Linked DNA regions of Homo sapiens: region 2 is reported to be linked to region 1. Evidence: microRNA targets listed by miRTarBase, many of them from high-throughput screens and not tested one by one. Region 1 holds a microRNA gene; the other region holds the end of a gene's coding sequence.

Region 1 (6,398 bases):
ATCTTTCTGCATATCATCTAACATTTATTCACCCACTCATGACAAATATATGTATGGATGCATGCTGAATTCACATATGCCTGTGTGTGTATTCATCACTATGTGCTGGATACTATTCTAAGTACTAGGGCTATCCTATTCAGTAAAACAGAATCCCAGTCTTACAGAGTTTACATTCAGATAGGAAAATACTGATGATAAAAATATATGTACAGTAAATACATGATATTGAGATGAATGGTACCATGAAGATATACCAAAGAAGCATAAGGAAATAGAGAGCTGGACATGGTGGAGGGAAGGAAAATTTCCACTTCACTTAAGGTGAGCACAAAAGGGGTCTATGACAAGAGGTTATATAAAAGAGATGAGGAAATTAAAAATGAGGAAACAAGCCATGTTAATGTATGGCATATGTGAATTCCAGACAGAGAGAAAAAATAAATGAAAGTTCCCGAGGTTGGAGCACCTTTGGCATTTTCAAGGAAAAATAGGGAAGTCTATGTACCTGGAGTGAAATAAAAAACAGGAAAACTAGTAGAAGGTAAAATCAGAGACGTGGTGGGGGTTGAGTTCACAGGGACTTGATGGGATTATAAAGATTTGATGACTGCATTTTGAGTTAAATGAAGCAGGAAAAATTCAGTGAAACTGAAAAGGAGTGCATAGCTTAGGTTAAGTGCTTCCATATAGAAAGAGAAAGTAGACAGCCCTCCCCCTCTTGGCCCTAATGGAATAAGGATCAAGACGAGAGTCAGAGGTGCAGCAAAAGGGGCCAAACTTGAGGCAGGGGCCTACAGAAACTCTAAATATCTATGAGGAAATTTGGGAACATAATAGCAAAGGTCTTCTTTCTCCAAAGCCTGAGAGTCATTGCAAACATCTAGGAATAGTCTTGCAGGAGAGGAAGGAAGGGAAGGAGGTGGGTAGCTCAGTGCTGTTACAGGGAGGTGGCTAGAGACAGGAGCCAGAGGCTGTGATCCCAGTCCCCAAGGCCTATGTGGAGGGGCTTAGAAGTTTTTGCATGCCTCAGTAAGGGTTCAAGGTACTGAGAAGACTGGTGAAATAGCAGAGGCCTGGGGTCAGGACTAAGAAATTGTGGTGAGTTTTTAGTGTACTTGCATGCAAATAACTGGGACCATGAATCTCAGTAGTGGTTGCCTTCATGACAACCAAGGAGGCCAGCTGGGACTAGCAGCACTATCCTCATTGCCACCAATCTACCCAGATGCTATCTGGAGGTGAAAGGAAACCCAAAGAATCTCTTCTTTTTTCAAGAGAAATTGTCTAAAATATGAAGAGACTGGGAGACCATTAATTGTCAAGTTTTCATCCCACCACCCCTCCCTGCACAGTATTCAGTGACATAGAGGTCATGAGAAAGATTAGATTAGTTACTTACAGACTATACCCTTCATTTGCAATTTATAAATTGTGACCGTACCCTATACCTAGAATCTGGAAATTCTATCTCATATATCATTTATCTAAGATCTGTGCCATACATTAAAATGATTTTTCCCAGTTTGTGTGAGTAGTTATATAACCAATAAAATCTACTTTAAAAAGTAAAGACATTTACTATCAGCTTGACTTTATAATAAAACCAAGTTTAATTGTTTGAAAGTTTGATAAGGCATCTGCCCCATAGAAATGTCTTATTAGGCAAAATCTGTAGATGTTGGTCATTTGCTAAAGAGCCCCATTTTCTCCTCTCACCCCAATTTACTGAATGGGTCTGCTAAAAGCATAAGCTTTTTAGTCCCATAAGTAATTTTAAAATGATTATTCTAACTGAACTGCTCCTAAGATTTACTACCTATATTCAAGTGTAAACAAAACACTAGATCTCAGATTCAGTAAGGAACTTTTCCATTTCCTTTCTCTCCATTTAAGCTCAAGGCAGATATTATGATTTTGAAAGTAATATTTATTTGGATAATATCAGAAAACCAACCTAAACAAATTTTTTCTTCTCATGCTATTATTCTGAAACTTCCATGGTTATTTTTGTATACATTTTTCTTTCCCTCTTCCTTACAATCCTTATAACTTTATCCTCACTGGAGTTATTCTGTGTTGGAGCAGATAAACAAAATGAATTCTTACACTGTATTAGCCGAAGGGCAGCAGACATGAGAAGAAAAGAGAAGTGGTGTTCACAGTCGAAGGACGTGCTTTTCAGTAGTGATTCAGACAATTCAGAAAAGCTTACTCATCTCTTTCCTATCTGCTAGTGTGACCACTGTATTCTTCTTTTTCAGATTGCCTTCAGGGTTATCTGCTGTTTGAGTGTCATTACAAAAGTCAGGTCTGCTCAGGATCATGTCAAATAATTTATCCCCATGTCCTCATTTTAACTCCCCATTGCTTCTTCTCAGCCCTGTGCTCTGGGTCCTCACCACACATCAGGTCATAGAAGCTGGGTGCCCCCTCACATTGCTTTCTTTCTTATTATGCATACCAGTGTTATGCAAACCCTACAGGAGTATCTTAGGTTATGCAGTTTTCCCATGACATTTAAAGGAACCCTAAGCCTCTTGTGGGAAGTAAGATAAGGCATCCTTAGAAAGTGTTATCTCTACAGTTTACTACATTGGGATTACTATTCACTCAACTAAATATGATTTCAAAAAGTTAATTGTATTTTCTAGATATCTTAAAAAGAAACCATACATTTTTAAAAACATGCTGCTTTAACTTTGTCTAGAATCTTACTCCCTGCCCCCAAATTTAACAGCTTAGCTTTTCCATTGCTTAAGTAAGTGCCTTGTATTTGAATAATACAGCTTAATCAGATTTTTGAAAGCTTTTATTACATCGTTTTAAAGTGGCATAAATAATGTAAAGTAAGCCTAATTTCACATTAGACACCTTCTATGGCGGCTTATGAAGCTCAAGTTTTTTTAGTTTTTTTTTTTTTTTTTTTTTTTAATTAAGGCGATTCCAGCAGTCATTTCTGACTCTGTGGCATCTTTCTGCAAATCCTGTCCACTTTACTGCTATACCGAGGTTCATTTGTGTCATTCAAATCTTTGCTCTTTAAATATCCACTTATAAATTTATTATGGCAATACATTCATATCTTTACATTTAATCTGAAACTTCGGTAACAAGCAGGAGATGGAATAAATGAGTAGCAGACACACTTGACAAAGTCAAAATGCTCTCCTGTCAGTGCCCATATGAACTATTACAATGACAGAAGAGCATTTTAATTTTGTCCAGTTCTTCTTTCTCCTTTTCACTCTGCATTTCTCCTTCTCCAGCTGGCTACGGAAACTTTGATAAAAGATCCAGACTTTAAATGCCCAATATCCTCAAAAAAATGTCAGAGAATGTTTTAAAATCATAGATTTTGAATGACACAGATGAACTTCACTTGCAGCACTGCTGCAGTGGGGAATTTATCATTTTGTTAATTAAGAAGGGTTTTCCAATAGTCACTCCAGAAATTGCCTCTGGAATATCATTAATTAACAATCTTACTTCCACCATGGGAGGGAGGAATGAGGCCGAGCAGCAAAACTCACAAAAGGACTAACTTAAAATACACACACACACACACACACACACGCATTTGAAAAGCACCAGACAAATCTGGAAAAGAGGAGGGGAATGAATTACTTAACACAAATATTATAGGATCAACAGAGCTAACAAAAAATCCAATTCATAGCATTTAAAGCTATCTTAGTTCACAGGCCTTATGCTAGTCCCGAAATAAAGTCAACAATTTAGAAACTCTATCTGAACTAAATAATTTACCATGTTGTTTGGAATTTAAGGGCTTTCCCCCCAACAATGACTGCTTCCTTTCTAGGGAAGAAGAAAACAAGTCTTTTTTCCCCCCAGTTTTCTTATTTGTTGAGTATCCAGGTAACAAACTACTTAAAATCAACCAAACAAAACTTGATAATTGGCCCTATCCCCATGTGAGCCACAGAAGGATGTAACCATGGCAACCTGTCATTTAGAACAGACCATCTCACGTACCTTTCAGAATTTAAGCATATGAGAACTTATCCATTCCCAAGTAGAATTATCATGCCGGGAACATTTTGTTCTTTATTGCAGAGGAAGTATAAAGCCAGACTCTTAAATTGTTCTCAACAAGGTGTTCAGGAGAAAAGGAGGTTCAGTAGCCACGAAAAGATGGAGATACATACACTAATCTAAAGTTCTTTCTGTTGAGGAGTAAACAAGAATAGACTTGAGGAAAGGGCAATCATTAAAGCCGTGGTGACTGTAGCAGAATAGCTTGGTGAAACCTAAGTTTTCAAAGTAAGAATCTTTTCCAATGAGGAAAACAGCAGCTGACTGACACAAACACAGACCCTCCTTGATTTTAAAGGAGTTTGATCTTCATAGTCACTTTTAGCACACCAGAAAGTATTATTTCCCTCACATTTTTGCTGGTTGTTTTTTTTTTTTTTTTTTTTTTTTTTTTTTGGCAATCAAGACCTACAATAAGACTTTACCTCTCTGGATTTCATAATACAGGAAACTTTTTTTTTTGTTACTTTTTTTTTGTTGTTGTTAGTATTTAGTGACAGGGCTCAAACTGGCTGGGAATGTTCTGATAGACTCTTAATCTTCAGGTGTCTCAAACTGAACATAAAAGAGTTTGAAAAGTATTTCTTATTGAGATGACCAAGTCGCTTTTCTTTAACCATCAAAATGGTAATCATGATTAAAATCTGTGATCAATTTTAATTGTAGCAATGAAATGACAACCAACTTCTCCATTTCCACTAGAAAAATTTTAGAGAGTAAGAACATAAAAAGAGAACCTAGTGTCGGAACATCTCAAATTGTAAGGCTAGCCAGAATGAAGTAAGTTTTGTTAGAGCCAGGTGTATTCTCTTTGTAGTCTCTACATCAAGGGGCTATAATGGGTGTCTGAAGAAAAATCACGGGTTGATTTTATCCTTTATATTTAACATGCTGTCAAATTTATATTTCCACATTACTGCAATATGGGGATCACTGGGAACTGTGACTAACACTTTTGTCTATGTACAATAGTGTGGCATCTATAATAATTCTCTAACTCCTATTCACATCAACAAATGTGTATTGAGAACATACTCTGTGAAAGATACGCTGAAAAGAGTGGTGGGGCATGCCAAGAAGCAGTAGGTGATTTACCTAGAAGCTAATGTAAATTTAGGGCTCTTCCCCTAAATGACTCCCTTGCAAGAACCTAGCAGGGATGCTAGCAGTTTTTAAATTCATAGTTATTATTTTCCATTAAAAACACTTCCACAATTGCATGATCTTTAGGCTCCACAAAATCTAAATGGGCTGCCCTATCATCTCCCACTAAAGTTTAGTGGAAGCATCTGAAAACTTAGCACCATTTTTCTGTTTGAAAGTGTTGCAAGAACCACAATGAGGAGCCAATTGACAATGCTGCTAGAAGTTTGGAGACTTAAGGGAGAGAAAGAACGTGACCTAGGCAGCACTGTAAATATTGTGATGAAACGTAATAATTTAATGAGGTCTGTTTTACCATTTTGGACATCTATATTTAAGATTATTTTTAATATGTGAAAGTTCTTAACATTAATTTAAACCATTTGGAATTTTTTTTGCTACCAAATATATGGAGTCTAAAGTAAAAGAATATAAGTGGAACAATATATAATTTGTCTAATACATAGACAAGTATAATGTATTTGTTGACAAAATACATTAGTATTTTATGTTGGGCAGTATGTACAAATTTTACGTACATCAAACTCATAATGAACCTATGAGATAGGTACCATGATTATTTCTGTTTCACAGAGGAACCTGAGGAATGGAGAGATTAAATAATTTTCTGATAATTATATGACTTGTAATCATTTAAAATCTCATCAGAAAAAAAACTGTTTAGCTATAATAAAAACAAGAACTCTTTCGGGATCTTGATTTGGAATTCTAAATCAGTAACACCTCCCTTGAAAGCAATTTAGCAATATCATTTTTTAACTAAAATTTTCATACCTTTGACCCCAAATTTTATTTCTAGGAGATTAACATAAAGAAATCATCTAAAATTAGACAAAGATGTATATATATAAATGTTCTCTTTAGCATCATGTATAGTAAGAAATAATGAGGAATTAAAATTAAAGATACGTTATTATATCGGAATGGTGAGCAAATATATATGTTAGAGTGAAATACAGCCATTACAAGTTTTGTTTTACATTTTGCCTAATATTATAATATAAAATCATTGAACATATAAAAATGCATATTTTTAAAAAGACTGGAAAAATATGTTAAAACGGTAATAATTGCTTGAGATTATGGCCATACAGGTGGGAAAGTTCTATATGCAGCTGAAGGTATGAAGTTGGAACTGGGTAGTAAGTAAGACGTATCTGAAACTCAATATAATGATG
Region 2 (3,000 bases), not on the chromosome of region 1:
ATGCCACTCCCCATGAGAGGAACCACAGCCAACACACTAAAGCTGCCTGCTCAGTTTCTTTCCCGGGGAAGAAAATGGCCCAAGTCTTCCTGGAGGATCAGGGTGAGGGTATTAATGGTTGGGGAGACATGAAGAGTCTGAATGCCTCCCAAGTAACTCAGCCTCCACCTAGCCTCCAGCGTGGGGGCTGAGGACAGGCTGCACTCAGCCCCTCTCTTCATTAGTGCAGGGACGGGCCTCAAAGCGCTCTGGAGACTCCACAGCTACAGGGCTATGGTTGCAGCTGCTGCCGCACGTACCTCCACGCTGGGAAAAGGGGACGGGCCCCTGGAAAAGGAAGGAATAAATCTCGAAAGGGAGAAGAAGGAGGCACAGAGAGAGATCAAGGGAAGGGGGTACACAGAGATCTCAGACCTGGCGGCAGAAGGGAGAGCAGGGGACACAGGAGAGGGGACTCGGTGGGGGAGGGGAGGCGGGAAAGGGGGCGGGGGCCAGGGCTTGGCGCGCCGGGAGGGCCCCTCGCACCCTCTCCCCTTCCCACCCGCGGGCGGCGCTCCCTCGCGGGTGCTCACCACCGGTGATCCGCTGCAGCCCCAGCACGTCCTCCGGCCCGATCGGCTGCTTCCTCTGCAGCGGCCCCGGCCTGGGCCCTGGGCCTGCGTCCGGCTCCGACTCGGACCCAGATTCGGATTCCGCAGGCGGCTGTGGTATGGGGGCCACGCTCTGGCCCGAGGGCCCCGGAGCGGACTCCGTCGCCGTCCCGGCCCCACCGCCGCCCTTCTTCACCTTCATGGCCTTGCGGGGCCGAGGCTCGCCTGCTGCTGCCGCCGCTGCCTGCGCCGGCTGGAGCCGGGGGAAGTGGGAGCATCCGCAGCCCCGCCCCCGGCCGGGGCCCCAGGTACTGCCCCGCCCCGGCCCCGCCCCTGGGGTGGGCCCTGCGCTGATCCCGCCCGCCGCCCGGCCCAACCCTCCCGAAATGCGACGGGCGCGGGGGATGGGAGTCGGGGTATCCTGCCCTGGGCTTCATTCTGTTTTTCTAACACTTTCTTGTACTGGTACTAGTGGGGTCCTGACTACCTCTCCGCTTACTCATTGTGTTCCAGCCTTTCTGCCCGTGAGTTCCAGGCTCAGGGTCTCTGCTTGGATGGTCTTCCCCAGATGGCCTCTTTTCTCCTAGTCACAGCTCAAATGTCATCTGCTCAAAGGGCCTCCCTCACACCCAGTCTGAAGTCCTTCCCCCTCAGTCACCATCTGACCAGCCTGTTTTTGTCTTTCTAATGCATTATGTGAAATTATTTTTATTTGTCCGCTGACTCTTCCCCCTGAAAGCTCAGCTCTGTGAAAGCACTGGTCCTGCCTACTTTGTTCTCTGTAGGACCCCTGTACCTAGCAGAAGGCTCCCTGCAGCTGGTGCTCAAGACTTTTTTTTTTTTTTTTTTTTTTTTTTTGACCTGATGAATTAGTATCTCAGGTAAAAAGCAGATGCTAACAGCCTTGGGCAATCCAGCTAGGAAGGGCACATGGCCACGTGGAAGCAAAGTGGACCTGTGGGCACAGGAGGACAAACACCAGGAAACTGTTACTTACGCGTGAATGCAGAAAGAGTAGAGCTCAGACTTTGTATCATTCCAATTCATATTCAGCCAGTGTTTATTAAGAGCCTACTACACGCCAGACACTTTACATGCTGATCACATTTACTCCTCACAACCATCTTGTAAGGGAGACATCATCAGTGCCATTTGAACAAATGAAAAACTGAGGCTCAGAGAGATTCAATACCTTATCCAAAGCTCTCCAGACAATAAGTGCAAAAACAAGGATTTGAATTCAGGACTGTTTGATTCCAAATCTGGAACTTTCTGGAACCTCTGACACACACACACACACACACACACACACACACACACAGCACCATGTCCTGAGCTGCTGCCTCCTGGACTCCCGCCAGACTGCACCTGACAGACAAAGCCAACTAGGAGGGAGGGGAGTGAGGGAGAAGGTCCCACAGGTGACCAATGCCTGGCCCCTTCATGACAGCAGGGGCTAGGGCTGTCCCACAGGGACTAGAGAGAGGTGTGGAAGGCAGGGACTTTCCCATAATGCTCCCTCCTCTCAGTGCACAAGTGTGCTATGTTGAGAAATGGGGCAAAAGAACAAACAGTCCTTGCCACAGAGGGAGACAGGCAGCAGCCTTATCAAACAAGATAAGGAGACCCGGATGATGTGCCTTTTGAGGCCCCTGGTGGTGGAGGAGGATTGAGCCAGGTGAATGGGAAAGGAAGAAAAGATGAACCCATCTTGGAGTGTTGTACTTTGGTTGCTGGAGAGCCAACAGTGGAGACTGGAGACAAATATTTAAGTCATTCCGGCAGGCCCCATGTACGTGCCTCACAATCTAACACCGCCCACCTTGGCCAGAAAGGAAGGCTTCCTATGGAGGTGCTGCCCTGCTCAGTCTGTCTTCTCAGGCTTTCTCCAGGACTTGCGGGTCTCCAGGAAGATCTTGACCAGGGACAGGAGGATGGGCACAGCCATAGGCAGGAAGAGTGGGATGTAGATGGCAAACTTCTGGTCATCAGGGAAATAAAGGAGGTGGAGGAGTGACGGGTCAAAGAAGGCAAGCTCAGAGGATGTCACAGCTTCCTGGCTGGCGACAAAGGCAGATGCCAGGTGCCCAGACGCCAACTCTTCTGCCGACTTCTGGACGGCAGCTACAGCCTTGTACACCTAGGAAGGAGAAGGGACAAGAGGGTATACCAGTAAGTCCTAGGCATTGGTGGAAAGGGTGCTGGGCCTTACTGTGCCTTCCATCTACCAAGGAAGATGCCTGGAGTTCATCCAGGATCTATGGAAGTCTTTCTACAGGGATATGGTTTATTTTCCTAGGGTCAGCTTGAAACCTCGCACTCTCATCTGCACTCCTGCTTGGGGGCTGGTACTGCCGTCTAGAGGAAGGCTGGGACACTAAAGATGGCAAGCCCACACATACCATGGACC

Evidence for each region. The annotated mature microRNA hsa-miR-3660 reads ACUGACAGGAGAGCAUUUUGA and lies in region 1 at 3,159-3,179, opposite strand. An mRNA with a match to its seed (bases 2 to 7 or 8) in the 3' UTR can be bound and repressed. Matches are read on the target gene's strand: a 7mer-m8 pairs with bases 2 to 8, a 7mer-A1 pairs with bases 2 to 7 and ends in A, and an 8mer does both.
Region 2: the mRNA of PIGS is a reported target of hsa-miR-3660. Seed matches in the 3' UTR shown: 7mer-m8 at 1,959-1,965 and 7mer-A1 at 1,871-1,877.

What each region holds. Positions count from the first base shown.
Region 1 is chr5:90,013,483-90,019,880 of GRCh38, forward strand. It overlaps MIR3660 (microRNA 3660), which reads right to left and starts at 3,238; the gene lies at 3,139-3,238. RefSeq lists an enhancer at 1,229-1,278.
Region 2 is chr17:28,551,766-28,554,765 of GRCh38, forward strand. PIGS (phosphatidylinositol glycan anchor biosynthesis class S) reads right to left here. Exons shown (of 12, transcript NM_033198.4): 12 at 1,622-2,730. The coding sequence ends at 2,455. It overlaps UNC119 (unc-119 lipid binding chaperone), which reads right to left and starts at 859. Exons shown (of 5, transcript NM_005148.4): 1 at 573-859. The coding sequence starts at 792. RefSeq lists silencers at 476-525, 586-1,035.